Linked DNA regions of Homo sapiens. The protein of the gene in region 1 purifies or fractionates together with the protein of each later gene. This does not show direct contact. Each region holds a gene or a part of one and is shown in the gene's direction. Other genes may lie near its edges.

Region 1 (3,733 bases):
GGCAGGTGGATCACTTGAGTCCAGGAAATCAAGACCAGCCTGGGCAGCATAGTAAGACTGTGTCTCTAGAAAAAAAAATTTAAAATTAGTCAGGCATGGTGATGCATGCCTGTTTTCTCAGCTACTTGTGGGGCTGAGGCAGGAGGATGGCTGCAGTGAGTCATGATCGCACCACTGCACTCCAACCTGGCCATCAGACTAAGGCTATGTCTCAAACAAAACAAAACAAAACAAAACAAAACAAAACAAAACAAAACAAAACAAAACAAAACTGGTGGGCTAGGACAGCCCCAAGAGAAGGTTGAGGATCTCTATCATGGGTCCCAGACGTTTGCACGCATTCACTTATGAGTGTGTCCACAGAGGACATACACGTGCATTTGTGCATATTCAACCCCACACACATATGCACAGGCACACCATTCAAGTGTGCATACACACATACATAGAGACGAACACACATATACCCTGGCACAAACAGGCAAATGCACATGTACACACAGACAGTGCACATTCCTAGCATGATGTAGACTCACACACATATGCATGCATGCATATACAGAGGTAAGCACACAGGCACATCAGATACATACCCTCCTATGCACAAGCATGAGGGACACACAGAGACACAGCCAGGCACATCTCCAAAAAGCCTGTAGACATACAAAAGCATGCACACGGCGTGAAGGTCCACGTGCATGCACATGCATATGCACAGGTCTGTGGTTGCTCATGTCCTTGGCAGATGTGAATCAACACATGGCTGGATCTCAGGGCTAAGAGGCAGCCTGCCGGATCCACACACTTGGACTGCGTGCTCCCTTTTCCAATGCTGCTGCTTTGAGGCCCCAGTCAGAAAGGCAGGCTCTCTGGGCTCGGGAGCTCAGTCAAGGGCACGGGCTGCTGTGAGCCACCCTCCCTCTCTGAGCCAGGCCCCCTGAGTGCGGGAGACTGAGGGGTTTGAGGGGTGGGGAATGGCCGGGACAGATCCTGTCAGAGCTGAAAGGGCCCTCTCAGATCATCTTATTCAAACTTCTCATGGTCCTGATAGGGAAACCGAGCCCCTTCCCTCCCCCACCATATGGAGCCCTTCATCAGCTGAAGAGGTATGAGGAGGGGTGAAGCACACAAACTTGGGTTTCAATTCCACCCCACACCCACAGGCACACATACTAGCTGTGTGCCTTCGAGCAAGTCTTCTCCGAGCCTCAATTTCCTTGTTTGCAGAATGACACTAATCAGTGCCCGCCTCACAGAAATGCCACGAACATTTGGTGGGTGGGTTAAGTCTTTTTTTTTTTTTTTTGACCGAGTCTCGCTCTGTTGCCCAGGCTGGAGTGCAGTGTCTGCTCATTGCAACCTCCACCTCCCGGGTTCAAGCGATTCTCCTGCCTCAGCCTCCCGAGTAGCTGGAATTACAGGCGCCCGCCACCACGCCCAGCTAATTTTTTTTTTTTTTTGTATTTTTAGTAGAGACAGGGTTTCACCGTGTTGGCCAGGCTGGTCTCGAGCTCCTAACCCTAAGTGATCAGCCCGCCTTGGCTTCCCAAAGTGCGGGAATTACAGGCGTAAGTCACCACGCTCGGCAAGGCTGTGTCTTTAAAGTGCCTGACATGGAGTAGGTGGTCAATACACATGATTTGTTGGAAGCAGCTTCCGAAACTGTGTACTAGAGGCACCACAGCAAAGAATGAGGGTTATTCTATATTTGAAAATTCCAGGGTTAGGGTCTCAGGTCCAGTCTGCTCCTTTGCCACAACTCCTCAGCCCTCTACTTTGACTATGCCTGGGTCTAGGAATAGAAGTGATCCATTTGGGAGATGAAGGCTGACACCCCAGAAGCCAGGGATGGTGGGAAGGTGGCAAAAGGCCAGGCCAGGGCTCAGGATTGCTTTGAGCTGCTCTTGTGTTAGGGGCAGCCAAGGGACAAGACGTTTAAGTGTGAGATGAACCCAGTATAAATAGTCCAATACGTGTTTGCTGTGTCTTCCCCTGGAGGCCAGTCAGGGCCCGGAAGGCATCCATGGCCCCTTGGTACAACGAAGCATGCATGAGTCAGTTTCTCACCCGCTCCCCCGCAACACACAGCCACACACCCCACACTCCACACACATGAAACACACACCACACACACACCACAAACACATCACACCATACACACACCACACACCACACACATACACCACACTCCCCCACACACACACCCCACACACCACACACACACACACCACACACCACACACACACCCCACACACCCCACACCCCACACACACCCCCACACACCACACCACACACACACACACCCACACCCCACACACACACACCACACCACACACACCACACCACACACACACATCACACACACCACACACACACACCACACCACACACACACACCACACACCACACACCACACACACACCACACACCACACACACACCACCACACACACACACCCCACACACCACACACACACATCACACACCACACACACCACACACCACACACACACCACACCACACACCACACACACCACACACACACACCACACACCACACACACACCACACACCACACACACCACACCAAACACACACACCACACACACACAACACAGCACACACACATCACACACACACCACACCACACAACATACACACCACACCACACACACACACCACACATACACCACACACACCACACACCACACCACACACACACCACACACCACACACACACCACACCACACACCACACACACACACCCCACACACCACACACACCCCACACACACCCCCAAACGCACACCACACCACACACACACACCCCACACACACCACACACACCACACCACACACACCACACACCACACATACACCTCACACCACACACACACACCCCACACCCCACACACACACCCCACACCCCTCACACACACCATACACACCACACACACCACACACACCACAGCACACACACACCACAGCACACATACACCACACACACACCACACACACACCACACCACACAAGCACACACACCCCACCACACACACACACACCCCACACACCACACACACACCATACACGCCACATACACCCCCCAACACACCACACCACACACACACCACACCACACATACACCACACACACCACACCACACACACACACCACACGCCACACACACACACACCCCACACATCACACATACCACAAACACACACACCACATACACACACACACACCACATACATACAGAACCATTTCTTTGATGTATTCTTTTGCCCCCTTCCAGCACTTAGCATGGTGTTATGCACATAAGGGGTGCCCGGAACACAAATCCTCCCTCATGTTACTCCGCTTCAGGTGGGCATATCAGGTCCTAGAGGGCACTGGCTTGGGAGGTGGGAAATCTGCCTGGAGCGCCATCTCAACCATGACCTCTGGATGACCTTGAGAGGGTCAATTCTCTCTCCTGTCCCTCAGTTCCCTCCTCTTATAGGTAGATAATCATGCAATATCAGAGATGAAAAGGCCCTTGGAGGTCATCTATTCCTCTTTCTCTGTTCCTCTCTCCAAACTACCAGTGAGGAAACTGAGGCCCAGAGAGGGGAGAGATGTGGCCAAGGTCTCAGAGGGCATCAGGACACAGCGGATTCCAATGTGGTCTGTGTAATACACCATAATCTCCCTACTCGTTCTGTGGCAAAATCCAAACACAACTTGTCTCTGGTAAA
Region 2 (3,733 bases), on another chromosome or scaffold:
TTACTGCATTTGATGGGAGAAAGTATTTGTGATAATGGTATTTGGAGATTCTTGAGGGTCTGAAGATTTGTAAAATGTCACAGTCTTTTGATAAATGAAATGCTTTTGGGGCACGTATTCCCCTTTGGTGTATGCATTTTTTGCCTGTGACCAGCAATAGCATCAGGGCATCCAGTTTGAGTGGTTTCAGCTTATCTCTCCAGACTGCCTAACCTGAATCCCACCCCCCAACGCAAGAACAATCGCAATTGACTGATTACAGGGGTCGTGTGTCACTCTGGAACTGAGCCTGGGATGTGATCACATGAATTCACTAACATGAGCCAGAGACAAGTCCAGATTATTCCTGGGCAAAATCTAGACATGCCAGTGGCCTTAGCTGTACAGGCTGGTGTTAACAGCAAACTCAGAGTGGGTTTCTGTTCTTCCTTCTTGTCATCGGTTCCAAAAGCTCTTGAGCAGACTTCAGGATTCAGGTTTGAATGTGGTCTTGACTCATCTGGCCAGCTATACAGTAGCACTGAGCCACAGAGCTGGGCTGGATAGAAAGGTCCTCCTTTGCTGTGTGGTCTTATAGGAAACAGCAAGTAAAAAAGTAAAGGGTTAAGTACTAGCAGGCTTCACTGATGCTGTGCTTCCAAAATATATTTGCAGAAAGGTTAAGCTGTATTTGTCTATTCTCTAGTTTAGCATATTATAAAAAGTGGTAGATATACTACTGCTGTTTTATTTGACTGTATGGTGGTGTGTCGTGATTGAATCCGAATAAGTTACTTGTACTTGAGTTTTGTAAATTTATCATTAAAGGGCTAATAGATAGTATTATAAAGCAGCATAGCTATACTCTTATGGCTTCATTAATTATGACACCTAGACATAATTAGGCTCTGGCTAAGAATAGCGGACAAAATGGAAAATCATTTGGGGGAAAAAAGTTTAGATTCTGAGAAACTGAAAGAACATTAGCGGAGGGCATCTGTTGATTATCAGGCACAACACACAGGACTAAGGCATTACCCATCGTACCTCAGCAATGGCACCCATGAGGGGTTATTCCAACAGCCAGTTGTTTAAGAATATGTCCCTCCCCTCTTGATGTTATTTCCATTTCATATTTCTTGATACCCCATACACAAATAATCTAAAGCATCCTCCATGGTTTAGAAATAGCAGTTTTGATGATTCGAAGTTGATCCACTCATTTTTAATGACTTTATTTTTTAGAGCAGTTTTAAGTTATCAGAAAAATTGAACAGGAACTGCAAAGTTCCCATACACCTCCTCTCCTCATGCACACACACAATATCCCCTATTATTAACATCTTGCATTTTGAGGTGCGTTTGGTGTAATTGATGAACCGGTATTAATATATTAGTATTAAAGTCCATAGTTTACATCAGGCTTCATTCACTGTTTGTGTTGTACAGTCTATAGATTTTGACAAATATGTAATGTCCCCCACTACAGTATCATGCAGAATAATTAAACTCCCCCAGATATGCCCTCCTTTCCACCAATTCATTCTTCCCTACTACACCCCGAACTCTTAGCAACTCTGAATCTTTTTACTGTCTCTATGGTTTTGTCATTCCATTCAGTTTTAAGAACTACCCAGCTTTTCCTAAGGAAGCATCATTCATTCCTTTATTCATAAAGTGGTCCCTCAATAAATAGTATGTGCCAATGTAGCGTTCTGCACTTTGGGATTATGACAGAGGACCAAAAATTAAAAATTCCAATCTTCACAAAGCTTACATTCTAATACATCAAGCCTTCAGGCTTGCTTAGATCCTAAATAGAAGTGAAAGGAGTCCCGTGAGAGCACAGGACAAGAGGAGGTTATTGAAGAGAGTAATGTGAAAAGGGGGCCTCCTACCAGTAGACCCCCTTGTCTCAGGCCAGGCCCGGTGCCTCCGTGTTTTGGTCCCAGGAGCTCCGCCTGCCAGCCTCCTCCAGCTGCTGCCCGTGTGTTCTCCCTGAAGAGCATCCAAAGCCCATGCCTTTTCCCAACTCCTCCTCTCTCCTGCTGTCTCCAACATAAGTGTAAGCACCTTTTTCAGACTTCCATTAAGTTTTCACTGCTAGTTATTTATAGCCCTGCCTAGTGCTAATAAAATATAATAGAAAATTTACAAAGTCATAAGAAATAGGTACCCATAAACATCTAAAGACTAACGGGACAAGGCCTTTCCCTTTGCAGAGCAGATAAACCAGAGTTTTTTTCTTCCCTCCAACCCTCTCTGGGGCCAGTAGACATCATTCCCTGGTGCAGCCATAAGAAGCCCTATTCTTTTTCCTGCCACTTTCCGCATAACCCTAGTCCTCCAGAAAGATGAGAGGTTTCCATGAGTGAGGACAGGCCAGGGAGGCGATGGAAGACTGAAAGATCCATTTCATCCTTGCCAGTTCTGCCTCGCTGTCTCCTTTTTGGTTCATACAAGAAACATGCCTAAAAGTCAGCTAAATGGGCTCCTCAGGAACCCTTCTGAGCATGTTCTTAGAGCGGGCCTTGTGGTTTGCTCCTGCTGGTGAGCACCAATAGTGCACATCTCCCCACTGCACATCCAACGGCATTATGCTGGTAGCCTGAAATTGGCCACGGTGAGAACATTTACACATGGATATGAATAAACACTACCAATCCCCATTTCACTAATTTTTTTCTTCAAAGAGCTACTTCACCAGCATGCCAGTGGGCAGATCTTTCTTAGTCAAATTCTTACATTGATTGTACCGTAGAAATGAATTTGATAAACACTATTAATTTATATGTTCTAATTCTACTTTCCATAATTTTAGGTGGGGGGGAGGAATGCCAACCAAAGTCAACAGGAGATTTGATCCAGTAAGTTTTGAAAACCACACTTAGCATCAAGCTACACAGACCTTGCTCTTACTTTTCATTTCCCTTGAGAGAAGGGCTAAGGCAATTCATGGGTAGTTTAGTTTCATCTATGTCATCTTCATTGAAATTTCACGGCAATAGGACTCTAAAATTTTTGCTCTTGTGGGTGTCGGGCCATAATCATAATTAACATTTCTTTTCCCAGATTACAATTTGCTTGTCCCTGTGTAAGTAACAAGGGGTCACCTATGCTGACTCGTCCTTTTGTGCCCCGTGTAGGACTGCACATGCCAGAGCGAAGGCCGATGCCGCCGACCAGGCCGCGCTGGCCGCTCGCCAGGAGTGCGACATCGCGAGAGCTGTGGCCAGGGAGCTGTCACCTGATTTCTACCAACCAGGTAAAACAGTGCTCCTTTGATGGGTGAGGCAGGAGCACTGGCTTTGGCTTGCTTTTATTTCCTTTTCCTTTCAACATAAAGATGTGTGCTTCCTGAATCCCAGCAGTACTATTATACAAAACAAGCAAGGGCGCCTGCGGTTGAGGATCCTTCATCTGAAGTGCTTGGGACCAGAAGTGTTTCAGATTTCAGATTTGTTGATATTTTTCTGTATTTGCATGTACACAGTGAGATCTCTTGAGCTGGGAACCCAAGTTGAAACACGAAATTCATTTATGTTTCATAGATACCTTATACACATAGCCTGGAGGTAATTTTATAGTATATTTTTAATAATTTTGCACATGGAACAAAGTTTTGACTGCATTTTGACTGTGACCATCGGTCATGTGGAATTTTCCACTTGTAGCATCGTGTCGGTGCCCACAATGTTTTGGATTCTGGAGCATTTCAGATTTTTGGATTAGGAATGTTCAACTTGTAGTAACA

Evidence for each region.
Region 2: the proteins of STARD8 (region 1) and JPH1 purify together in Homo sapiens (affinity purification with mass spectrometry; 2 studies listed by BioGRID and IntAct, with this or other methods). This does not show direct contact.

The regions. Positions count from the first base shown.
Region 1 is NC_000023.11:68,650,570-68,654,302, forward strand, and holds part of STARD8 (stAR-related lipid transfer protein 8), read left to right. Parts: intron 1-3,733. UniProt on the Homo sapiens protein: Accelerates GTPase activity of RHOA and CDC42, but not RAC1. Stimulates the hydrolysis of phosphatidylinositol 4,5-bisphosphate by PLCD1.
Region 2 is NC_000008.11:74,258,896-74,262,628, reverse strand, and holds part of JPH1 (junctophilin-1), read left to right. Parts: intron 1-3,125; coding exon 3,126-3,244; intron 3,245-3,733. UniProt on the Homo sapiens protein: Junctophilins contribute to the formation of junctional membrane complexes (JMCs) which link the plasma membrane with the endoplasmic or sarcoplasmic reticulum in excitable cells.